4 linked regions of the Homo sapiens genome follow. The protein of the gene in region 2 interacts with the protein of the main gene of each other region in a pairwise test. Each region holds a gene or a part of one and is shown on either strand. Other genes may lie near its edges. The genes, in order: ZNF330, OTX1, WWOX and CPT2.

Region 1 (7,032 bases), on a different chromosome or scaffold from region 2:
CGAATAAGTAAAGACATGGAGAAGAGAGAATATAAGACATATTTGGAGAATGGCTGACCATTAGTGACTTGAGTCTAAAAAGAATAGGCCAAGAAGGTTTGGAAAGTGATTAGGGGCCAGATTGTGGAGAGCTTTTAAAACCATGTTTAGGAATCTGGATTTTCTGTGAACTTTATTATTTTGTATTCTCTTTGGAACGGTGCCTTAGATAAATGCATTATTTTAAGGGTCACCCACTTCATTTGGAATAATATGTGCTTAACGTTTCATAAGGCTTAGAATGTACTTAACTATCAAAAGGATAGTTCTTGTGTTCATTCTGTGGTATTTTATTCCTTACAAACAATTGAAAAAGAAACTACCAATGTATTTAGCCTCCTTTGTGATAATGCCACTTCTTCAGGGAATCATATACCCGGAGTATCACTCTCGCATACCTTTGTTATTTTAAGCATGGGTAGGTGCTTGTATACATGGGTGGAGTTGGGGCTTTGGTGTAGTGTCACTTAAATTTTAACCTGAAAAGCAGGTTATTCTTTGTAATACAAGTAAATTTGCAGTTTTCAGTCAGCAGAAAAATTAATGTGATATTTTTATATGTTACAGGAATGTGACAAGTGTCAGAGGTAAATTTTATTTCTTTTTCTATCTACCTTTAATAAAATTGTCCCTCTGACTTTTTATCTGACATTGACCATAATTTAAAATTTTATTTTACATGACAAGGCGGCAGAAGAATAGAGCATTTTGCTACTTTTGTAATTCTGTACAGAAGTTACCAATTTGTGCACAGTGTGGTAAGTTTGTAATAATTAAGGACATATGCTTTTTATCAACTGGTAGTTCAACAATTTGAACTTGGGTGGGTTTGTTGCTATTGGTTACAGTGCTTACAATTGTTGATAATATTATGCCTTACCATTAACAAAATAACAAAACATGTTATTTTGCCTACCAAAAAACTATCAAGCCTTGGTTTTGTCTCTTTGATGTAATGCTGGAAAATAATTAAGGTACAATTTAGATACAGGTTACCAATAAGTGTTTTTAAACAGTGAAAGATCAGATTTCAGACATAACATTTGGTGATCCTGAACTTTTAGTTATACTACCTTAGTCTTGTCAGTATCTGTTTGTTTACTTATCTACATTTTGATTCCTGCTGATATTACCTGCAGTGTGTTAGACCATTGGGAATAATTTTATTCCACATTTACCTGGTACTTATTTTGTGATCAGTAGTTTTTGTGTTTGATGCTTACCATATGATTCATGAGTTTCCTCACATGTATTCCCAGGTGATTTAAATAGAGTTCTTAAGTCATGTGCCCGGTTCTTAAGTATAGGTGGAGACTTGTACCCCAAAATGATTATACAAAATAAAACTAAATGTTAGCAAGATGGGTGTTTCCCAAATAGTCTTCCACAGACTTCCTGAAATATTAATGGATATTTCTTGAAAAATATATATCGATATACATTTGAGAAATACTGCATGCATCCTCCTTTCATTCTCATCTGGGAGATTTCTATTATATATTTATATGTTAGAAGTTCTGAAGACTTGCAACAAAGAAACCCAATTAACTTTATTACTCTAGATTTACATCCCCCCCCAACTTTTGATGAACAAGTATTGCTTTTATTTATGAGATAATAATAATAATTTCAGGTAGAACAATTTGGGGTATGCTCATTTAAGTGTGTTTATATGTAATAATATTCCAGAAAGTTAGTAGTGTTTAGGGCTATATCCCTGAATATTTCTAATGTAGTTCTAGCTTTCAAAGAAGATCTTTTCAATTCCACAATTAATGAAAAAGAGAAAACTGGCCTATATGGAACACTCATATGGTAGTTTTCATAGCCTTGTTTTGCAAAAAGTAATGAATGTAGAGTGAGGAAACAGAGTTTGTGGAAGATTAATAGGTAAGTTCTTGCTAGGACTTACCCCTATTTTCAGTGTCTCTGGGCTTAAATTTTGTAGTGTTGTTAGATGGATACATTTCTCATTTACTGATTCTTAGTGTTGGACATGGAACAGTTGGGTAGCTGCTGCCTCTCATTTCCAGTTTCTCTTCCCATTTCCTACTAACTTTGTTCCTTAGGAAATCAAGATAACGGAAAATTGTTTCTTTTGTGTTCCATTTTGTGGAGTCTCAGATGGATGATTAATGTCATCATTAACTCTCACATAATATCTGATAAGCAAATTTCCTGATAGTGTTTTGAGTTGGTAATTTAATTTGCTTCTAGATCAGAGGTTTAGTGGCTGTGTGGTGATTTGTAGCTGTATCACCGTATTGTTTATTGTGCTTATTTGGGCACTATTTCAAAATTTTGTTGGGAAAATGTTTAACTGGGGGCTTCGTTGTAAATTTTTATGTTTGGATAAAATTACATTAACTCGATAAGTTACATAATCATTATTTGGTTTGGTTTGAGGTATTATTCTGTGGAAAGAAATAACTTCAAACCACAGTTTTTATTGTGAATTATAAAATGTAAAATTTGTTATAAAAAGCATTCCTTTAAAAATTGTTTTGAATAATCTGAAGATTGATAAGTTTTTAAACTGTTAAAATGATCATTAGATTACAAAGCATAACCTGCAATTTCTGATTTAGTACAAATTAGCATATATATTGTATAGTTCATTTTACAGATTTATTAGTAAATGTATAATCTGAAAAGTCTGATTCGAGTAATGAAGTCTCAGTTATATCCATTTTCTCTTTCTAGTTATGTAAGCAGTAAATACTGATTCAATTTCATTAGTTTTTAAATTATTTCCTCAGGAACTTGGGCTGGATAAAAGGAGGAATTCGTGAGTACTGGTATGTATTCCTTTGCAAGACTAACAGTGCAAATGTTTTTCTTCATTAGGGAAAACAAAGTGCATGATGAAGTCTTCAGACTGTGTCATAAAGCATGCTGGTGTATACAGTACTGGCCTTGCAATGGTGGTAAGCTTCTTATTATCTCTTAGACTAGTACGTTTTCAAGGATAAGAAAATGTCATTCTGATCAGTGGTTATTTTTTTCTAAATATCATTGCTTTGTCCCTTGTTTCAATCAATCTGTAGTTATCTGGATTATGAGTGGCATGCTTTTTGTATGATTTTCCCTTAGTACCCACTTGTTTCTAGCTGCTTCTTTCTTTCTTATTAGGGAACATACAAGGCATGGAAACTTTTCATGCTGATCTAAACAGAATTTCATTTCTCAGTGGTACCTTTTTTTTTTTAAATTTTATTATTATTATTATACTTTAAGTTTTAGGGTACATGTGCACAACATGCAGGTTTGTTACATATGTATACATGTGCCATGTTGGTGTGGTGCACCCATTAACTCGTCATTTAGCATTAGGTATATCTCCTAATGCTATCCCTCCCCCATCCCCCCACCCCACAACAGTCCCCGGTTTGTGGTGTGTGATGTTCCCCTTCCTGTGTCCATGTGTTCTCATTGTTCAGTTCCCACCTATGAGTGAGAACATGCGGTGTTTGGTTTTTTGTCCTTGCGATAGTTTGCTAAGAATGATGGATTCCAGCTTCATCCGTGTCTCTACAAAGGACATGAACTCATCATTTTTTATGGCTGTATAGTATTCCATGGTGTATATGTGCCACATTTTCTTAATCCAGTCTATCATTGTTGGACATTTGGGTTGGTTCCAAGTCTTTGCTATTGTGAATAGTGCCACAATAAACATACGTGTGCATTTGTCTTTATAGCAGCATGATTTATAATCCTTTGGGTATATACTCAGTGGTACCTTTCTAATATCTCTTAACCAGACTTCACAAAACAGTATTTAGTGTACCGAAAGCCCTGCTTAACCAACGTTTAAGCCTTTGGTTAAATAAGCAACTTAGTTCCAAACGAACCTAGGATAATAGTGTTCTTTAAAACTTTACATTTCAAAAAAGTGTATATATTTAACATACCTCTTCATTACATATAGGATTTTTTAAAGTAAATTCAGCTTTTTGAATAATAAAACCAACTGGATTATGTGATGTATTTTGCTCTTTTTCCTGAAACATGTTTTCCTTCTAAATATGAGTTAACCAGTTTTACTGTATTGCAGTATGATTTTATGTTCAAATAAAATTTTGTTCAAATTTTAATCTATGAGGAAAATGATACTATATTTATGTCAAATGGAATATTTTATTTATGGTAAATTTCCAAGAACATGTAAACTTCTATTATGAGGGAGACCTATGATATATTTCATATGTGCATATATTATAGAAGCAAGGAGCGAGAATTATCATCTTGTGAATTGCTCTTTATTTTAAGTATAGGATTGTCAAGTTATCTTTATTCAAAAACACTTTCAGTCTTCCTTGGTAGCTTAAGTTCAGCCAAATTCATTTTTTAAAATCACTGTTTTTTGAATGTGAATAATTTCTTCTTACATAAAGAAAACATTTAAGTAGAGTCATATATCTTTAGTTGTAAATTCTAGAAAAGTGATTTTCTGGATATCTTCTATTTGCCTCCCCAGATTCCCCCTGAGAATAGCAGGAGAATAAGATCTGGGTGTTTATTCCTTCATCTCACTCCGTACCAGGTTATCCTGGTTTGGTTTTATCCTTTCTCTAAGGACCACAGTTCTCCCTATATGGCCAGGTAGTCCTCTCCTGTTTGTCCTAAGAACTTCCCTGTCCTCTGCAAATTATCTCTTTAAAACTCTTCTAGATTACCTAGTTTGAGAGTACCATCTCTTTTTTGCAAGAACCCTGGCTGATCCAAGAGATATAGTTGATGATTTGCTAGCTATACTGATAACCCATTTTTGCAAGTCAAAAAACATTCTTCCTATTTGTTGTTTACTACATTTGTTTCAGAGCCTTGAATAATAGAATACTGAATTGAGATTCTGAAATCCTGGCTTTAAATCTCACCTCACCTGTAATCCAACTCGGGACTTGGATTTAGTCTTGGGCCCCATGCTTTTCCTTTATAAAGGAAAGATTGTCTGATCCTACTCTCTTAAGATTCTTTCTAGCTTTTAATATTTGGTAGGTGTCAATGTTTTATTGAAACATATTGTTATTGTCTTTTCTTGATATAGAATTGGAGAATCTTACCCTGTATTTTAGTTCCATATATTTTACTTCAAATTTTTTCCACAAAGAAATGTAATTATTATTAAAACATAAGTTGTCATAAGAGAAAAAAAGAAGCTGGCAGAAGTTTCGTATTTCTCAGTAATTCTAGAAAAGCTATGCAAATATATAGATAAGAAGGTATTTTAAAAATCAGAAATGGTAGTATTTAAAAATTCAGTGTAGTTACAGGAATTATTATAGACAAGAAAGCTTAAGCTGTTGGTTCCTTCAAACTTTATTTGAATTAAATTCATTTTGAGGAAAATACTTCCATCTCTTTGGCTTAATTAAATAATATTAGGATAAGTGTACAGTTTACCTTTTTTTCTTTTGATATGTAACTGAGTTTTGTATATTGTGGATAGCTGTTAAGAAGTTGTTTTTCAGAGAACCCTTTTTATTTTTGGCTTAGAGTGAGTAGTAAAATGTTTAAATGAAGCGGCCTACTATCATTGAGGGTTGATAAATTGCTAAATGTATACAGTTTTGATGGTTGCCGTGGTTAAAGAATGGTTGCAGGTGGTCAGGTGATAATGATTATGTATTCTTGTTCCTTGGTTACAGGGTGCAATATGTGACTTCTGTGAAGCTTGGGTTTGCCATGGTAGGAAATGTCTCAGTACACATGCTTGTGCCTGCCCTCTTACCGATGCTGAGTGTGTTGAATGTGAACGAGGCGTGTGGGACCATGGTGAGTCATTAGACACAAGTAATGAGCTTTGTTATAGGTGAATGTTGACTTTGAAACATTTTGAATGCTGTTTTTGAGATTTTTTTCAGGATACTGTCAATCCTAACTACTGGTACTGTTTTGATTATCAGTGTAGTTAGAGAAGGGATCTATACTGTCTGTTATTGTCAATGCTAGTATTGTTTACCCAAACATGGAGGGAAGTTGTGGTGGAGCAGGTAGTCTCTTTGAGCATTGTGAGTGTTATATGGGTAGCTAGTGGAGAGTAAGAGCCCCCTTTTCTCAGTTTCAGTTCAGTTTCAAGGACTTCAACAGTTTTCATTTTAGCTTTTATCAGAATAAAAATGGCTGAACAATTTTGGTGTATCTCCAAAGTAACTTACCATCTCTTCTAAGCAGTATTATAGATATGAGTTTTTTTAAATTAAAGTTTATCTTAATTACATTTGTGTTTTTTTAATCCAATAGGAGGCAGAATATTCAGTTGTTCTTTTTGCCATAACTTTCTCTGTGAAGATGATCAATTTGAGCATCAAGCCAGCTGCCAGGTTTTAGAGGCAGAAACATTTAAATGTAAGTTTTTAAGTATTAGATGTTCTTTATACCCAAGATTCTGAATAGTATAATTATTAATCTTAATGAAAAAGGAATCAAGTTTTTTTATACTGCTTCTCATGAACTGTAATTTAACTCAGTCTTTATTTTCTGTTTCTAGAAAACAGAACAGTCAGAATATAGTTGTAAATTTTTCAGCAGGGATGCCAGTGGCATATTGGTTGGGCCAGTTTTTCATTTTGTAGGCTTGATTTGATCAGGCATTGCAGGACTTACACCTTTCGTGGTTCAGAGTACCACATGTCATTTTTACCTTCAAATTATTATAAAAAACCAAACCTCACCCTTCCTTCCCATTTCCAAATGCCCTCCCGTAAGAGATACCACCCTGTTTGTTTCTGCTAGTTGGTTCTAGTGATTCTTAGACAGGACTGTATATCAAAAATACCTGTGGAGGTTTTAAAAATAATGTAGATGTCCAGGCCTCATCCCTGGAGATTCTATCTTTTAAGTCCGTGGTGGGTGCCAGGCACCTGTATTTAACCTATACACAAAATTCTCACGTATTTTCCAGTTGAGAGCCAGCATTGCTGACTGGGTAATAGTATCATCTTTACACATAGTTTTTTTCTTGGAAGGTTCATTGAAATGAGACACCAT
Region 2 (4,534 bases):
CCTCGAATCTTGGAGACACTGGCTTCTAGTCGCACATCTGCACTTTCTCCCACCTGTGGCCTCTCAGGCTCGGCCGCCCGAGGGAGTTTCTTTTATTCCCAGTTCGGCTTTCTTTTGCGAAGGCCGAGATCTGGGCCTGCCAGGGGCCTGCCCGAGTCCTCTATCGCGGGTCCACGTGGCCACCAATGACCCGCGGCGCCCCCGCGTGTCCCCGCAGCCACTCCGCGGAAGCAGCGGCGGGAGCGCACCACCTTCACGCGTTCACAGCTGGACGTGCTCGAGGCGCTCTTCGCCAAGACTCGCTACCCTGACATCTTCATGCGGGAGGAGGTGGCGCTCAAGATCAACCTGCCGGAGTCTAGAGTCCAGGTGCGCACTCCCCGGGCTCCAGGGTCTGGGTAGGGGAGCTGAGGCTGCTCGGGGAAGGTCTAGGAAGGCTCTTGAGTAGTTCTTGAGGAGACCATCCTGTGGGGGTGGGCTTACAGACTGGGCAGCCGCTCTCGGACTCCCCCTAGCGCTGGGCCCCAGCCAGGAAAGGGGGCAAAAGTTAAAGGAAATGGCTTAGAGCCCTGGATTCCGCCTTTAGCCCTAGGGCGCCTTCGGTGTCGGTATCGAAAGTACTTTTTAGAATTGCCGGAGGACTAGGGAAGCTCCCGAATGTAAAGCGCCCTGCGGGCCTGACACTTGCCCCTGCTTCTTCGCCTGCCCCAGGACTTGGCAGTTTCCCTTAGAGGCCTGAATTCTGCCTCTGCCCTTGTCTTCCACCCCGGGAATCCTAGAAATGGAAGAGCGGAGATTGGCTGGAGCCTGGTGCTCTGCCTGGGTCTCATTAGACGCTTCCTCTGCTTACAGAGGATGCTAAGTGCAAAATCCTGCTGCCGGCTTTCTTATTTCTGTTTTTGAGATGAAAGGGTTCCGATGATAACGTTCGGATTCTAACTCAGAACTCTCCTCAAGAGTCTCGCCTCCTTTACTCGAAAGCTTGAGAAGGGGGACCAGGAATGCAGTGCCATGTGCTGGGGCTCTCCTAGAAGAGTAACCATTCCATTTGGTTCCCCACCTGGAGCCAAAGGGCCAACGAAATCCCACCCAGGCTTCCTTCCCGAGTCCCTCAAGTACTACCTCTGTTTAGCCTCTGGCCTTGCTCCTACCCCCACCCAAATACTCGCCCTGCCCAGTTCTGGCCTCCAGGAGCTGCTCAGTGAAACGGCTCAGGCCCTAGACTTGGTGACTGTTCCACACTCTTCGGCTCTGTACCTCTCCACTGTTGCCTGAGCTCTGTTAGTAGAAAACTGGGCCTCCAAACACACACGGGGCCTCCAAACATACACGGAAGCAGCCAACAGCAGCAATTTAGAGATGGCAGAACTTCTGACTGGGCAGACTGAAATATTCCGCCCTAGGGCAGAGTTGCGGTAGGGGTGGGGAGGTGCGCATCCCTGCTCTGGAGCCAGCTGAGGAGGGGCTTTGAGCAGAAGGATGGGGGAGGGTGGAGGAGCTGGGAACCGAGGTAGGGGGCAGGGTCTGGCCAGGCCAGAGACAGGAAGGGGCGGAGGCCTCGGTGAGAAAGGATTGCGATATTCTGGACCGGGAGTTGGGTCCGCGGGGCGGTGGAGCAACAAGCTCCCCTAGCTCCCTTTGACCCACTCTCCCCCATCCGGCCCACTGCAGGTCTGGTTCAAGAACCGCCGCGCCAAATGCCGCCAGCAGCAGCAGAGCGGGAGCGGAACCAAGAGCCGCCCAGCCAAGAAGAAGTCCTCTCCAGTGCGGGAGAGCTCGGGCTCCGAAAGCAGTGGCCAATTCACGCCGCCAGCTGTGTCCAGCTCTGCCTCGTCCTCTAGCTCGGCGTCCAGCTCTTCCGCCAACCCAGCGGCTGCAGCGGCTGCGGGACTAGGTGGGAACCCGGTGGCGGCCGCGTCGTCGCTGAGTACACCAGCTGCCTCATCTATCTGGAGCCCGGCCTCCATCTCGCCAGGCTCAGCGCCCGCGTCCGTGTCGGTGCCGGAGCCATTGGCCGCGCCTAGCAACACCTCGTGTATGCAGCGCTCCGTAGCTGCAGGCGCCGCCACCGCAGCAGCCTCTTATCCCATGTCCTACGGCCAGGGCGGCAGCTACGGCCAAGGCTACCCTACGCCCTCCTCTTCCTACTTTGGCGGCGTGGACTGCAGCTCATACCTAGCGCCCATGCACTCACATCACCACCCGCACCAGCTCAGCCCCATGGCACCCTCCTCCATGGCGGGCCACCATCATCACCACCCACATGCGCACCACCCGTTGAGCCAGTCCTCAGGCCACCACCACCACCATCACCACCACCACCACCAAGGCTACGGTGGCTCTGGGCTTGCCTTCAACTCTGCCGACTGCTTGGATTACAAGGAGCCTGGCGCCGCTGCTGCTTCCTCCGCCTGGAAACTCAACTTCAACTCCCCCGACTGTCTGGACTATAAGGACCAAGCCTCATGGCGGTTCCAGGTCTTGTGAGCCCAGGAATGAAAGAGGAGAAGAAACGCAACTACCTGCGCCCTCCGTGGTCCCGATCCTGTTGCTGCTGCTGCACCGCCCGCCTTTGCCTCGTCTTCTCCAAAACTGAATTTTCACCCCCCAAAAAGATGTCCATTGCCTGCACTGCCGCCCCCATTTTTGTGCCACTTGCTTGGGGGGATGTGCAAACCCACCCTGCCCCTTGGATGGGGGGACCGGTGCTTCGGCTTGGCCTACACATTCTATACAGGAGAGATGTATTATTTCCCCCCTTCAGCCCCTACTAAACTCTTAAGCCTCCCCTTCCAGTCTTTCTGGACAGCTATTAAGCACTTGCAGCCTTCGGAGGCTCTGCGCTCTGATCCGCTGTTTGAGCCCAACACTTTAATTTATTCTTTCTGGACACTGGAGTCACTAACTGGCGTGTTTCTGCCCATTGGAGCACCCGCACACTACTCCAAATCAAAACCACTAAGAGTTCCTCCCGCGCAGACTGCTGCCCCTTCAGCTGCCCTCGATTTTGCTCCACGCCTGCCGGCCAGAGCCTCCCGGCGTTTCTTCCGCCCCAGCGGAGTGCGCTGGGGCGCGCCAGGGCTAGGCCCGCCGGAGGAGCGCGTCCCCAGCCTTCCGCGCACAGAGCCGCATCCCGCCCCGCCCTGCGCTGGACTGGTTCAAGCTTCCGCCTCGGCGGGAACGCTGTACATAGTCAGGTCCGTTCCAGGGACCACTTAAACTTTTTAGTTGCTGTTGGTTGGTTGAACTGAACATATCTTGTCTTAGCACCCAGGAAACAGAACTTTAAGATATATACAGCACATATATATATATATACATATATATATACACATATATAAAAAACAAAAGCAAAAAATATTTTCCCTCTGTCCGTCCCCCTTCTGCTCTTCCTCAATCAATGGCGCTTTTTCTTTTTCAGTTGTTGCAAAGCTGCCCTGCCCTCTTCACATCTTCTCCCTCTGTGTATTTATTGAAGAGAACCGCTTGGTTTCAGGAAGCTGGGCGCGGGATATCCGAAGTGTGGAGGAAACAGACAAGTCAGGGTACAGAGGTGGGGGTTGGGCAGGGGCGCAGGGCTGACCCCCTCACCCGGTCTAAGCACAGGGTCGCAGTTCCAGTTTACAAACCTAAAACAAGAAAACCAAAACCAGGGAACAAAACAACAAAACAAAACAAAATCCGTAAAAGTACAGCATTAGGGAAAAACAAACAAACCCAGGCCCCAAACCCAGTTCCAACTCCTCTGTCGGCTTCTCTCTTTCAACACCCTTGTTTTGTCTAGTGAGTTTTTAGTGCACCTTCGTTCTCCGAAATCTGCGGAGAGCCCGCGCGCCTGTGTATCAATTTTGGCTTTGGCCGCTTCGTCCAGTAGGTGGGAAAGTAATTTGTAAATTTGATTTGTCTGATGTGAAGATCACAAATTACTTGTTGAAATGTAAGGCAGTCCCCCTCCTCCTCTTTATCTACATTACTTCCCGAAAATAAATGCAAATTAATGAACGGCTTGTCAGTGTTGCTCTTCTGATTCCAGCCCGAGGTCCTGGTCTCGGGGGGCTAAAAGCGAGGGAAACTCCGTGTTAATAACCCGCGTGTTAATGACCTGCGTGAAGCTGGAGGCCAAAGGATGAGGCGGGAGGACTTGGCAAGAGAAGTCCCCAGAAACTTTCGCTTAGGGAGTGTCTCCCCCCACCCCCACCACGCCCCTCCGCGTCAGCCTGGCCTCTTCCCCCAGGCGTTTTGACCCCGCATCCCCCCTCGCCATCCAGGACAGAGACAGGTGTCAGGACTCAATTCCCGAAGCAATTCCTTTCTCTTCAGAGGCAGGAGCCTGGCACTGATTTCTTCACCCTAATTGCCTGCACCAGAAAGAAGAGGGGGAGGGGAAGAGGGTCGGGAGGCGGGAAAGGATAGCTCTGTAATGCTCTCAGAGCTGAGCCAAAAAGGAAAAGAAAGCAAAACGACAAAAAACTGATCCGTGTCCTGCATGTTGGCAGCAGACAACCTTCCTTGCTGCTGAGCTGTCCCGGGTGGC
Region 3 (7,032 bases), on a different chromosome or scaffold from region 2:
ATGTGACGAAAGCCAGTTGATGTGACAACTGCTGGGTGGGAGGGACAGGCTTGGGGGCGGGGCTGGGAGGGCTCCTTCCCTTCCTGACCCAGGGATGGTCTTTACTTCTCCCTGGCACCTGTAGACCTGTCTTTCTTGTGTTTCAGATTTGCCATACGGATGGGAACAAGAAACTGATGAGAACGGACAAGTGTTTTTTGTTGAGTAAGTGTCTGCAAAGAAACCACTCTCAGCTGTTTTGCTTTTTAATAGGAATTTTTAATTATAAAAGTAATACATAGTAACTGTAGAAAAATACAAAGTATAACAGTGTGTATCTGTAATCTTAGCAGAAGTGACTACTTTTAACATCGCTGGAACTTTTAACATCGCTAGATTTATTCTTCTATTTTCCCCGCACACGCATCCTTAAAAAAAAAAAGTAGGGAGGCCAGGCATGGTGGCTCATGCCTGTAATCCCAGCACTTTGGGAGGTCGAAGTGGGTGGATCCTGAGGTCAAGAGATCGAGACCATTCTGGCCAACATGGTGAAACTCCGTCTCTACTAAAAATATAAAAATGAGCTGGGTGTGGTGGCACGTGCCTGTGGTCCCTGCTACTCGGGAGGGTAAGGCGGGAGAATCACTTGAACCCAGGAGGCGGAAGTTGCAGTGAGCTGAGATCGCGCCACTGCACTCCAGCCTGGGTGACAGAATGAGACTCCTTCTCAAAAAAAAAAAAAAAAAAAAAAGAGGGAATGCACTGTGTGGACTGTTTAGTAACCTGCTTTTTCCATGTAATATATTATGAGCATTTTCTTGTATCCATATCTATTTTTCAAAAAGATGCTATTTAGCAGCTCTAGAGTTATTATTTTGTACAGATATACTATAATTTATCAAATTGCCTATTGGACATTAATGCTAAATTCCTGTTATAGAGAACCTATAATTATAAATAATGTATTGAGCATCCTTATCTGTAAGACTTTTTCACCTCTCTGATTCTGTCTTTAGGATAAATTCCGGTATCACGCAGCAATAGTAACCACCTGTCCAACATATAGCATGAGCCAGGCCTGATTCTAATCATCTTGTATCTGTAGCATTAGGTCATTGGATCCCCACAGTGCCCTGAGAGGTAGTATTGTTATTATCCCTAGCTTACTGCCAGTGACACAGACTTGAGGGGGTAAGTGACTTGTTAAGGATCCCACAGCAAAGAAGTAGCACAGCCAGGCTTTGAGCCCAGCACCTGCTCCAGGGACTGTACTCTTGACCACCGTAGTTAAGAGGAGAATTAATGTTTCACAACTGTCAACATTTAAATTAGAAGCTTGAATAGTCTTTGACAGGATTAGGATTGGTTGGTTAATAGAAGTTGATTTGAGCAGGAATTTTTTTTTTTTTTAAAGTTATGAATGTAACATAAACGTTTCAGTATTTGATTCAAGTACACCAACATTTAGGGGTCGGGCCAGCCCTCCTCTGAGTGTGAGTCCACTTGCATGGATCCAGTGTGGTCTTCCTTCCCCTAAGCATGCCTGTAACATAACATCTACAATTTCTACTTTCATTTTATGTGGGCGAAAGAGTACCTAGGTGCCGAGGCAAGAGACTGAAGGCACAAACTGTTTCAGTATAATAAAGAAAGTAGTTAGAATAAGAATAGTCATAATACAGGTTAGATATGGAGATGATCATGGACAATTATCAATCATTACTATAAACACTATTAATCATTAGCTTTTAATATTACTCTTTGTGGCATTACTAACATAACCTAGGAATAACTGGCATGTATAGGCTCAGGTGCTAAAGGGACATTGTGAGAAGTGACCTAGAAGGCAAGAGGTGAGCCTTCTGTCACACCCGCATAAGGGCTGCTTGAGGGCTCCTTGGTCAAGCGGTAACGCCAGTGTCTGGGAAGACACCCGTTACTTAGCAGACCGCGAAAGGGAGTCTCCTTTCCTTGGAGGAGTCAGGGAACACTCTGCTCCACCAGCTTCTTGTGGAAGGCTGGGTATTATCCAGGCCTGCCCACAGTCATCCGGAGGCCTAAACCCCTCCCTGTGGTGCTGTGTTTCAATGGTCACGTACGTTGTCCGCTTTCATGCTCCTCCCGTACTCCTGGTTCCTCTTTGAAGTACGTAGTAGATAGTGGTAGAAGAAATGGTGAAAGTTTTAAAGTCTTTGATCTTTCTTTTAAGGGCAGAAAAGAAAATGCTGACGTATGCTGCCTTCTCTCTCTGCTTCGGCTACCTAAAAGGGAAGGGCCCTCTATCCTGTAATCACGTGACTTGCTTCACCTTGTCAATCACTTAGAAGATTCACCCTCCTTACCCTGCCCCCTTGTCTTGTATGCGATAAATATCAGCGTGCCCAGCCGTTCGGGGCCACTACCGGTCTCCACATCTTGGTGGTAGTGGCCCCCACCCTGGGCCCAGCTGTTTTCTCCTTATCTCTTTGTCTTGTGTCTTTATTTATTACAATCCCTCGTCTCTGCACACGGGGAGAACACCCGCTAAGCCCAGTAGGGCTGGACCCTACAACTTTAAGGTTGAGCAAACACAGTATTTTCAAAGAATCTGATTGCTACATCATTTGGGAGTTTTATGGTATTTTTCTAGCATTTTCACTGTAGTTGATTGAACCAAAACTTTTTTTTTAGCTGCTTGTCTTTGAGGCTCTCCAAAGCATTCGACCACATTTTCATAGATACCACTGACACTATTTTTCACCTCCCATGTTATCAGTTTGTGTAATAGTAGCTTGCTGGTAATGTAGTTACAGTAACAAGTTCAAATGACATGTGTGTTTTTTGAGCAAACCTGGTGAACTTTTGGTGCAAAACTGATATTGAGAGCAAATAGGCCAAAGCTTGCTTGAGAGAAGTCTCCCAGGCCACCATAGGCAGCCCCAGGAAGACGGGGCTGTCTAGCAGTTGGATAGGTGGGAGTGCCTATTATTTGTTAAAAGGCTTTTTGCCTAACTTGTGAAAGTTTTTTTTCCTCAACTAATTAAGGGTATCAACGCATTGGTTGTATGTTGAAAATGTTGAAAATGTTTTTTTTTTTTTTCCAAGTTTTCTTTCTTTTTTTTTTTTTATACTGGGTCTTGCTCTTCTTATCCAGGGCTGAGGTGCAGTGACACAGTCACAGCTCGCTGCAGCCTCAACCTCCTGGACTCAAGTGATCCTCCTGCCTCAGCCTTCTGAGGAGCTGGGACTACAGGCTCATGCTGCCATGCCCAGCTAATTTTTAAAGACTTTTTTTTTGTAGAGACTGAGGCTCAGTATGTTGCCCAGGCTGGTCTTGAACTTCTGGCCTTCAGCGATCCTCCTGCCTTGACTTCCCAAAGCATTCATATTACAGGCATGAGCGACCACACCTGACTGAATTTCTTAAATTTTTTATGTAGTCAAATCAATTTTCTCCTGTGCAGTCTTTGCCTTTGCATTCACGCTTGGAAAGTTACTCCCTGAAATGGGTATTAATCAACCAAGAGCAGCAGTTCTCAGGCATGGTTCCTGGACCAGCAGCATTAATATCACCTGGGAATTCAATAAAAATGTACATTCCCAGGCCCCCACCCCAGACCTACTGAATCAGCACTGGGGTGGGGCTTGCAATCTGCGCTCTAATAGTCATCCAGGGGATCCTGATGTTCCCTAGCTTGAGAGCCTCCCGTCTAGAGCAGGGGCTGTCTCCTTTGCCTGTAAAGGGCTAGATAATATGTTTTAGGATTTGCAGGGCATATGGTTTCTGTTGCAATGATTCAACTCTGCCTTTGTAGTGCTAAAGCAGCTATACACAATATACAAGTGATGGGCGTTGTTGTGTTCCAATAAAACTTTATTTACAGAAACAGGCAGTGGGCCAGATTTGGCCAGCTCCTGGTCTAATCTAGAGGAGTAAGCAAGGGCTTTGGGGGGAACCTGGAAATTGGCTCCCCTGGCTAGTTCTCACTTTTCTGAGCCTGTTGCAGTGGGGTGCTGGTAAATGTTTAGCACCAGGTCTTCAGGGGGAAAAAAGCCACTGTTTGTTTCCACAGTATAAATACTTTGGCCATAGCTGATTTCATGCTGCCAAGGTGAAGTGAGGAATTGGGAAGAGATAGTCACGTTTGGCTCTTGTAAGCCAGTTTGAGCCAGTCTAGCATAGAACTGCTCTGTTGTGTGTGTATAATATTGGGGTCACAAATTAAGGTTGTTATAAATAGAATGAGGATGAGGATGGTAATAATTAGAATAAAGGTTGGATTATTACTCTTGAGTCTTGGTACTTATAGGGAGATGAGTATATATTTTAAACTAATTTTACACACACATACTTTTAAAATATGAAATTTCATCTATATTTAGAGGCTTCTTAATAGTTTTTAAGATATTCTGAGGTCTTTATCTCATATCCCAAGAATACATTTAAGATATAAAAAGTAAATTCTATTATAAGGAGTACTCTTTTCATCCATATGTGCCTTTTTTTTTTTTTTTTTTTTAATGGTTACCCAGGGTCTTGGTCTGTCACCCAGGCTAGAGTGCAGTGGCACAATCATGGCTCACTGCAGCTTTGATCTCTTAGGCTCACGTGATCATCCTCCTACCTCAGCCTCCCAAGTAGCTGCGACTACAGGCGTGTGCTATCACACTTGAAATTTTGTTTAGTGTTTGTAGAGATGAGGTCTAACTATGTTGCCCAGGCTGGTCTTGAACTCCTGGGCTCAAGTGGTCCTCTTGCCTTGGCCTCCCAAATTGCCGAGATTACAGGCGTGAGCCACTGTGCCCAGCCTCCAGTATATTTTAATACCATTTCTACAAGATTTAGATCAATTCCAAATCAAAATGAGTGCTCGTAGGAGGTATGAGTGCAGAGTCTTAAAATGAAAATCGTTAGAATTTTGGTAGTTGGCAGGTTTCTTATTTACAACTAAGACTTTATCATTTTGAGTTTTCTACTTCTCTACGTCTTTAGGCCCTTGCACAGGGCTAAGAGATTTAATTGAAATCTACTGAAAAGAGTGGCTGACAGATCTTATAGCTACATTTACATGAATTACATAAAAGCCCAAAACCTTCTCAAGAAGCCTTTTTTGAGATCTAAGGATACATGGCAATAGTTATTGTATGTTACAGCGTATGTTATAGGCAGTTCTGAAGGAAAGGATTCGATGACTATCTTTTTTTGGCACAAATGTGATCCTTCTGGAGGCCAGAAGATAGATTCAGTGGGCCCCAGTTCTTTCAGGTTTAAGGAATAAGCATTTTGGTCTATGAAAAATGGGGTTTTCCTAAAGTATAAGATTGTCTTATATTTATAAATGCCTGTGTTCATTGCTGTGGGTTCACTGCTTTCTCTTTTGGGCAGCCATATAAATAAAAGAACCACCTACTTGGACCCAAGACTGGCGTTTACTGTGGATGATAATCCGACCAAGCCAACCACCCGGCAAAGATACGACGGCAGCACCACTGCCATGGAAATTCTCCAGGGCCGGGATTTCACTGGCAAAGTGGTTGTGGTCACTGGAGCTAATTCAGGAATAGGTAGGCTCTTCACTTAGTTATTTATCTTTGGGACTGCTATAATGAGATCCACTTAGATCTAGCTATAATGGAATTTTGTTTAGTGGTTCTCTGATTTAAACATGACTTTTATCCTTTTCAGATATCGTTTCATTAACATCACTACCTCTTTTTAAATCCTAATGTTGTCATGGAAGCCTGTGTAGGGGCTGACCTTGAAGTCTCTGAAAGCTGAACACTCAGCAAAAGACTGTGGCTATTTTGGTATTCAGGGATGAGAGACAACAGGCTCCGTCTAAGAGTTTTTGACCTGGTCTGCATGGTGTATGGGCATATTCCAATTACCTGGGTTATTCAAACCAAAATTGATTGGTAATAGAATACGGGGAACAACAAGGTATTATGTCTTTGGAACAAAGGATACTACAGGTTTCGACTGGTCACTGAGCATATCATTTTCTTTTGGGCACAGGATCTTATTTCTCTATAAAATTGGAGAATGAGTTCCTGTCTTCACCTCTTAATTGCCAATGTTTACCCACAGGGACTATCATGGGTAGATGGCTCAAGAGGGTATCCTTGCTTCAATATGATGGGCCATTAAGGAGACAGGAGCAAGGCGGGAGCAAACCATAACTCTTCATAGGATTTTATTCTGATTTTGCTTTGATCTATTTACATAAGTATCTGAATCAGTGAGAACCACCTGCTTTGAGTTTAGATATGCATCTTCAGATTTGTCGACATATGAAACGTTGCATTTGGCTGTCTTCTGTCAAGTTCTCTCTGTCCTTTTGGTCCCCCGCAGCCCTCACACGGCCCCCTTGATGCCCTCCTCTACTCATTTGTTTCTCTTTCCTAATTTTGTTTTTATTTTTATTTTTTGTGGGTATATAAAGGTGTCTATATTTATGGGGTTCATGAGATGTTTTGATACAGGGATGCAATGTGAAATAGTCACATCATGGAGAATGGGGTATCCATCCCCTCAAGAATTTATCCTTTGAGTGATAAACAATTCAGTTATACCCTTTTAGATATTTTACAATGTGCAATTAAGTTATTATTAACTATAATCAACTTGTTGTGCTATCAAATAGTAGGTCTTATTCTTTCTTTCTATCTTTTTTGTACCCATTAACCATCTGCACTTCTTTCTTAATTTTGAACAATTCCTTGAAGCTGCAGAAATATTTTCTAGCATGATTAGGGAGGCACAGGAGGTAAAAATACATTGTTCAAGGGTCAATTATTGTGTTGTACAAGGTGTGAAATCTACCAGGTTGCCATCCGAGTGGAGAATTTTTTTACTGTACTTGCCTATGAAGGTAAAGAAGCAAATGGAAATTTTTTTTTAAGAATTGAAAGGATTTTATTTCAAATCAACTCTCATACCTCATCCTGGGCTCCAAATATGTTCAATCCACTTGTCTGAACTTCTGCATTGGAGTAAATTTTATATAATTGTCATTGAAGTCAAAACTGATGGCGTAATATTTAAAACAATGGCTGGATCCCCAATCTAAGAAG
Region 4 (7,731 bases), on a different chromosome or scaffold from region 2:
CCAACATGGTGAAACCCAGTCTCTACTAAAAATACAAGAATTAGCCAGATGTGGTGGCCTGCGCCTGCAATCCCAGCTACTCAGAAGGCTTAGGCAGGAGAATCACTTGAACCTGGGAGGCAGAGGTTGCAGTGAGCCAAGATCCCACCACTGCACTCCAGCCTGGGCAAGACAGTGAGACCATATCAAAAAAAAAAAAAAAAAAAAGAAAAAAAAGAAAAAGAAAAAGAAAAAGAAAAAAAGAAAGAAGAAAAGAAAAGAAAGGAAAGGAAAAAAGAAAAGAAAAGAGGTTTAATTGACTCATGGTTCCACAGGCTGTACAGGAAGCATGGCTGGGGAGGCCTCAGGAAACTTACAATCACGGCAGAAGATGAAGGGGAAGCAGGCATGTCTTACATGGCTGGAGGAGGAAGGAGAGAGAGTGAAGGAGGAGGTGCTACACACTTTAAACAACCAGATCTCATGAGAACTCACTCACTATCAAGAGAACAGCAAGGGGGAAATCTGCCCCCATGATCCAAACCGTGTCACCTGCCTGTATTATCTCTGTGTGTGTGTGTGTGTGTGTGTGTGTGTGTGTGTGTGTGTGTGTGTGTGTGTGTGTGATGGGGTCTCACTCTGTCACCCAGGCTAGAGGAGCATGATCATAGCTCACTCACTGCAGCCTCAAATTTGAGGGATCCTCCTGGGCTCAAGCTATCCTCCTGCCTTAGCCTCCCAAGTAGCTAGGACTGTGCCTAGCTAAAATACCAAACTCTTGATTTCAGCTCCTTTTGTCATCATTTGTCCATTTCTTCTACAATCTTAAATTTTTTTGACTGGGGTTTCTATGTTGCTGAATTTGGTGACATTTTCACTAACCCAGAACACACACACACACACACACACACACACACACACACACAGCCCCATTAAAGTTCTTTCCTTCAATGAAATTGGCAAAGGGGCATAAAGAAAACTGGAACCTAAGGACCCAGTGAGGAAGCAAAGTTCCACTTTCCACTGGAAACTGGTCTTTTACAATAATCCCATTGCACCTAGGAGCTGGACCAGGCTGTTATTTTAGAGTTTAAAAGTTGTCCTCCCTTCTTCTACCTGGCTACTGGCTTGGGGCTTTAGGTGGGTGAGGCCTACCTCCACAAGAAAAATCCACAGTGAAAATGGTGACAGTTGGAGGGTGCTGGAGTTGAGCTTAGCCTTCCTCACTTCAGAAGAGCTAAATGCATACAGGAGTGCAACAGAAGTCAGGAATCTATTGCCAGAGGGGCCAGAGAGGGGCAAGGGCCTTCCTGCTCTAGGGCCCTTCCCCAGAAGATGTTAGCTATGGGTCAAGTCTCTACCTCCTCCCCAACCCCCATTCTCCATTGCATCCTTGGAACCAGGAGCCCAGAAACCTGCCAGCCCAGATGACCAGGACCATGTTTGAGATGCATAAATTTGGTCCTCTGGATCCTTCAAAAGTACACTGTATTTGTCACTCCCCGTAGACCCTCATGCAATAAGTTCTTCATGCTCTGTACATCGATTCTTTTTCTCCAGCAGTTCTGAGCAATGCTTCAAAAACGAAACATCAGATTCCTTGTAAAGTTAAAAGGAACAGATTTTTTTCCCACATACCATGAATTTCTCATTGATTGGTTTAGTTACAATATCTAATGTGTCCACAGGTATGTTTTAAAAGTTCCTTTATGGGGCAGAGAGAGCATTTTTTTAATACTCTGGTTTCACTTTTTTGCATTTAAATACTTTCTCACATACTCAATATTTATAAAAGGGTTAGAGTTCATTTTAACAAATCCCATTAAATAGGCAGGGCTTTTCAAGGTCTTGCCTATGAATTTCCTCATTTCAAGCACTGTTTAGTCCAGGTAAGCTCCAATAGAACCTGAGAACTTGGGACTGCCAGGCCAACTCTAGGTACTAGTTCCTGACATTTCTTTGAATATTTGGGTGGTCACATTTGTTTTCTTTGGTCATACTTACCCAACTGGACCTCTTTTTTGTTGAAATGTGAACTCTACTGCTAGCCAGTTAAAGTTCATTGTTTTTCAGAACTTTGATTTTGAAGATGAATATGACTTTAACCTGGCCATCATGTACTGCTTTTTCATAGTTAATTCAAAACAGAGCAGAACTCTGGGGATTAGTTCAATAGAAACAATGTATTCTTCAGGATCTTTCTCTAAGTAGAGGAACTTTCTTGACCCTTACACAGCAATATATGGACTTTTTGGACTACCAGCTCATGGTTATTCTTAATGTGATCCAGACCCCAGGGCCATCCCCAGGAAAAGGAAGCAAAGCACCTCCCCACAGTAGGCCTGTGCTAGACACAGTGGACACACAGTGGAAACAAGGTCCCTGCCCAAAGACCTCAAAATTTATTGTGAGAGATGAATTGGTAATTAAATAGCTGATTATTTTAAAAGCCCTAATACAGTTGTGTTTCATGTACATAACTGTAAATGAATGTAAAAAGTGCTGTAAAATCACAGTGGGAGGGATTCATTCTTGCAGTGAGGAAGAAGGATGAGGATTGAGGAAGACTTCAAAGAGGTGAGTTTTGAAATAGGGTTTGAAGGACAAGTAAGAGTTTACTAGGCAGAGATGCATGGAAAGAACATTCCAGGCAGCAGAGACAGCTAAAATAAATAAATAAATAAGTCGCAGAGTAAGGAAAAGGATGGGAATGAGAAGTGGTTCAGTGTTACTACAGCATAGAGCAAGCTTGTCCAACCCACAGCTCAGGATGGCTTTGAATGAGGCCAACACAAATTAGTAAACTTTATTAAAATATGAGATATTTTTACAATTTTGTTTTGTTTTTGCTTATTAGCTATCATTAGTATTAGTGTATTTTATGTGTGGCCCAAGACAATTCTTCTTCCAGTGTGGCTCAGGGAAGTCAAAAGATTGGACACCCCTGGCATAGAGTATTTTGGGGTGACATGATGGGAGCTGGAGAAGTAGGTAGGGGTCAGAATTCAGAAGGCCTTGGACACCAGCCTAAAGGCTTAGAGTTGCTCCCATTGGCCATGCACTCACCAAAGGTGTTCACGTCCCTCTTTTGGCTGTTAGATTGGATGGGCTCAATCTTTTGGCCCTCTGTCTCTAGAATAGAGCCGCTGCTTTTCTACTGGGCCCACTATTTCTTCCTGGTCCTCTGATCCCCTTAGCACTACACAGATCTCGATATTTGCCTCGGGTATCAAGGCTCTGAAAATGATCAGGATTTAGAGGAGATGGCTCATTTTCAGAAAGAGTTTTATATTCTCCCTCTGGCCTTATACACTACAGGCAAATGGCACCGATGTTTTGGAGTTGGGCCAGTTGGGCCTTTTCTCCCCTCAAGAGAGGAGGATTCGATATTCAGTGTTTCTGAATTTCATGCTTAGTTCTTAAGCCATTTCCCATTTGCCCTAAGAAATAAGAGCTGGCAGCAAGCTGCGCTGTTTTTTTCTAAACGGGAAATGGGTTAAGCATTTGTGATCACCACTGAATGAGTGCCAGAGCTGGTTAGTGATCTTCCTGTTCAATCCGAGGTCACCTAACTAGATAACAAAGAGCTGAAACTAAAAGTCCGGTCTCCTGACTCCCAATCCAGTACTCTTTCTGGTGTGCTCCAGCTTCTGGCTCTGCTTAGCCAATTATGGAACAGACAGAATGTACTTGGCTGCCCCAAACGGCTAAAGGGCAGTTCTGTTCCCAAAATGGAATTCTGTTGTGCCTCAAGCTAGGCAGCATAATTGTGTGTCTTTTGGTAACTCCCTGTCTTCTTCTGTAAAATGGGAGTAGAGCCTACTTAATCCTGCAGCTACTTCTAAGATCAGGGATTGGGGCGTGGTGGGCTGTTCTGCAGCTGTTTTGTGATGGATGAGGGATGATAGATCTATGTTCAAGTAGCGGAATCTTAGAGTCAGGAGTTGGAAGGAATCTTGGAGGTGGTCTGTGGTGACAGGAAGCCTCTTCCAATAGACTGAACACGGAAGACTTCCTAGAGCCGGAGGACAAGGGTTTCTTTCCTCTTAGCAGTGAGCTTCTTGTTTTTGGAAATGCTCAAGCCAAGAATGGATGTTCAGGCAGAGGGGATTCCGCTCGGAAGGGGCTTTCTGCACTGAAGTGGTGGCCAGCGGGAAACTCCAGGTTTCCAACTCCTGCACAAATCCTTTCTAATATCCATCCACTCAGGTGAGCTGGCAGGGCAGTAGCTGTGCAGGGTTCAGGGTCATTATATGTCAATGACCTTCAGCACGGATTACTAACAACAGTAACATCCGTTACCGTTTACTGCTTTCCTATTAAGCACCATGCACTGTGCATAACATGTTATCTTTATCTCATATCTAGAATTTTGGGAGGTACTTTGAATCATTACGATCTATCTACTTCTTAGGTGAGGAAATAGAGGTTTAAAATTTAGTCCACAGTCTCGCAAGGATGGAGCCTGGATCAAATTTTGGGTTATCAGATTCCAATCACGTTTCTTAGCTTTTCTTTTTTTTTTCCAACTCCAGTTTCTGTCTTGCTCCAAAAAAGGGGAAGGAGCGGCTGCGGCGCTCGGTTTCCCGCCTCCTAGGGAAGGGAAGGGAGACGAGCAGCGCGGAGGCTGGGGCCCCCTTCCGGGCGGGGCCTACTAGTGGGCGGGGCCTGTCAGTGAGCGGCCCCTGCCCGGAAGGAGCCAGTCCGGGGCGGAGCCGATGGCCTTACAGGGGCCGGAAGTGGCCTGCGGGCGGAGAAGTGCCTCAGGAGTCCTGACGCAGTGTCTTGGGCGCTAACGGCGGCGGCGGCCTTGTGTTTAGACTCCAGAACTCCCCACTTGCCGCGTTCTCGCCGCCGCAGGCTCCCGGGACGATGGTGCCCCGCCTGCTGCTGCGCGCCTGGCCCCGGGGCCCCGCGGTTGGTCCGGGAGCCCCCAGTCGGCCCCTCAGCGCCGGCTCCGGGCCCGGCCAGTACCTGCAGCGCAGCATCGTGCCCACCATGCACTACCAGGACAGCCTGCCCAGGTGAGCCTGGCCTCCGGGTCCCCGCCGCCCGCCGCCGTCCCAGGATCGGCCCCAACCTGACTGCAGTCACTCATGACTCCTCTAGTGAACCCGTTTCCGCCCCCAAGCCCCTACCATGGAGGCTGCCACAGCCCCTAATCTGGAAGTCTTGGGACTTTTCACAATCTCCTAGCACAGGAACCTCAGAACCCTCAAATTCTCTTCCAGAACCCCTCGATGCTATCTCAGATTCTCCATCTTGAACGCTTCTCAGATTCCCTCTCCTTTAACCTAACTTCCAGCCAGCTATCCTGAGTCCTCTTCTCCCTGAAAAATGCCAGACCTGCATATTTCCAGCGCCGCTGTAATCCCTCGACTATGGTGTCTCCTGAAGTACTTTAATGACTGCCTCACATTCCTACCCGGAATATGGGTAGGCTGATTCCTAATACATCATGGTTACCATTCCTTAACTTCTCCCAGCACCGCCTTCACCCCTGTCACTCAGGACCCTCAGCCCCACCTCCCATTTCTCCAGTACTCTGTTCTTTCACCCCCCATGAGCCCCCACAAGCACAGCCCTGAAGTGTTCACCCTTGTCCTCAACTGACCCTCCCCCATGTTTTTAAATCTTTAATCTCCTAAATCCAGTGTTCACCCGGAAACCTTTCACTCTCTCCAAGCCCTCCTCAACAGGTTCCTCCCCTCAAAATATCCTTCCTCACCCACAGTACCCCTTGTAAGTGCAGCTCACCCTCACAGAATTCTAGACACCACCCTCAGTACCCCATCCACACTCCATCATACTCAGATCCAGGGTCCACCCAAATTTCTCTTCTCCTCCTCACCACTGGCTACCCTGCCTTCGAAACACTTCACCCAGAATCGACTTCCCCTCTGAAAAGAGCCCTAGTAAATCCTCTTCCCCTTCCCTCCCCCAGTACTTTCTTAAATCCAGCTTCCAGTTCTTCCAGCCTTCGAACTCCGCTTTCGTCTGAGTTGCCAGATCTCCTTCTTCAATATTAGAAATTTTCTTCACCCTCTAAACCAAACCTAAACTAACTTCTAACTTACTGAGTGAGTAACTCAGTTCCTGGAGCCAAGTTCAAAATTTGTCTCAAAGACCCTTCTCACCTTATTTCTCACCAAACTGCCCTCAGGGATTCCCCACACTCCAAGAGCTAGAGGCCAGGCTTCTTCCCCATGTGTGGAACATTGTGTCACAGGCCTCACCCGAGCTGCTGGGTTGTTTTTCTCTGCATCTGGGACCACTTAACCCAACGTCATCACTACATACCCTCACCCTCTCAGGAGGATCGAGTGATTCTTGTGAAATTACATTTTGTGCAAACATCTAAGACATGAAAATGAGATTATCTACACGTGGCAGGAGGGAGGAAGAAAAAGGGGCTTTGTGCCTGTGGCATAAGCCTGGTACATGCTTCCACCCTGTCAACCTGTGTGTATGAGCTGAGCCAGTATATGGGTGAAAGGTGAGGACTGACAGAACCTGTCTTCACTTGCCAAGTTCAGAGTCAGATGGTCACTGACTTTCAGGCAGGCCTGGGCCCCACCCAGGTTTAAGATCAGAGGGATTTTCTGCACTTTAGAATTGGAAAGCTGGAAAGAATATTCAAGATTATTTATTCCAACCCCATCCATAGCACAGTCTGTAGGAATCTGGAGGTACCAATTCAAACTCCAGTTCAAATAGTACCACTAGTCACCTACGCATAACCTTAAGCAACCAACCTCCCCCAGACCTCCATTACCTTATTTGTAAATTGGGAGTTAGATGAGAGATGAGATTCCTTCTGTCGCTCAGATTCTAGACTGGTAAAATGTATAATCTTTCACACTCACTCATTGATGTCACACTTGGTGAAAAGCCCTGACTTTGAGGTCTGGTAGAATGTAGTTGCAGATTCTGGATCTGCAAGTCTTTAGCTATAATTTGGGGCAATTCTGTTCACTTCATTGAGCCACAGTTTTATTTTGGTTTTTTTGAGACAGTCTCGCTCTGTTGCCCAGGCTGGAGTGCAGTGGCCCTATCTCGGCTCACTGCAACTTCTGCCTCCCGGGTTCAAAGGATCCTCCCGCCTCAGCCTCCCAAGTAGCTGGGATTACAAGCATGTGCCACCACACCCAGCTAATTTTTGTATTTTTAGTAGAGATGGAGTTTCACCATGTTGGCCAGGCTGGTCTCAATCTCCTGACCTCAAGTGATCTGCTCTTGGCCTCCCATCTGGGACCACAGGCATGCACCATCATGCCTGGCTGATTTTTTGTATCTTTTATAGAGACAGGGTTTCGCCATGTTGCCCAGGCTGGTCTTGAACTCCTGGACTCGAGCAATCTGCCTGCCTCGGCCTCCCAAAGTGCTGGGATTACAGGTGTGAACCACCGTGCCCAGCTTCACTCCAGAAATTTTTAAGTAGGACTTTTTTAAATCAAATTGCCATTGTCTCTAATCTAGAATTTTGTTTAAAAGGAAGAAGGTAAACTTTCATGAATATTCCTACTGTAATAAAACTAAATCTTAAACATATGTAGGCAACTGGAATTATGAGGTAGCTGAGATAGTATTTGGAATTTTTCTGAGTAAGTCAGTGAATGTAAGGGGATCTGTGGTGTTAAAGTGTTGTAAATGGGTACTTAGTGCAGTCTAAGTCCATAATGGCAGTAAATAATTGATTTATTTTTGTCATATTATGGATAAACATGCATTACAAATAAACTGATGAACCAC

Evidence for each region.
Region 1: the proteins of OTX1 (region 2) and ZNF330 interact in binary tests that used the Homo sapiens proteins (3 or more experiments, as listed by UniProt).
Region 3: the proteins of OTX1 (region 2) and WWOX interact in binary tests that used the Homo sapiens proteins (3 or more experiments, as listed by UniProt).
Region 4: the proteins of OTX1 (region 2) and CPT2 interact in binary tests that used the Homo sapiens proteins (3 or more experiments, as listed by UniProt).

The regions. Positions count from the first base shown.
Region 1 is NC_000004.12:141,223,881-141,230,912, forward strand, and holds part of ZNF330 (zinc finger protein 330), read left to right. Parts: intron 1-606; coding exon 607-626; intron 627-726; coding exon 727-797; intron 798-2,886; coding exon 2,887-2,966; intron 2,967-5,690; coding exon 5,691-5,817; intron 5,818-6,285; coding exon 6,286-6,390; intron 6,391-7,032.
Region 2 is NC_000002.12:63,053,830-63,058,363, forward strand, and holds the end of OTX1 (homeobox protein OTX1), read left to right. Parts: intron 1-102; exon of another isoform or gene 103-217; coding exon 218-369; intron 370-1,671; coding exon 1,672-2,487; 3' UTR 2,488-4,002; downstream 4,003-4,534. UniProt on the Homo sapiens protein: Probably plays a role in the development of the brain and the sense organs. Can bind to the BCD target sequence (BTS): 5'-TCTAATCCC-3'.
Region 3 is NC_000016.10:78,109,632-78,116,663, forward strand, and holds part of WWOX (WW domain-containing oxidoreductase), read left to right. Parts: intron 1-146; coding exon 147-204; intron 205-5,344; coding exon 5,345-5,523; intron 5,524-7,032. UniProt on the Homo sapiens protein: Putative oxidoreductase. Acts as a tumor suppressor and plays a role in apoptosis. Required for normal bone development. May function synergistically with p53/TP53 to control genotoxic stress-induced cell death.
Region 4 is NC_000001.11:53,192,093-53,199,823, forward strand, and holds the start of CPT2 (carnitine O-palmitoyltransferase 2, mitochondrial isoform 1 precursor), read left to right. Parts: upstream 1-4,731; 5' UTR 4,732-4,851; coding exon 4,852-5,003; intron 5,004-7,731. UniProt on the Homo sapiens protein: Involved in the intramitochondrial synthesis of acylcarnitines from accumulated acyl-CoA metabolites.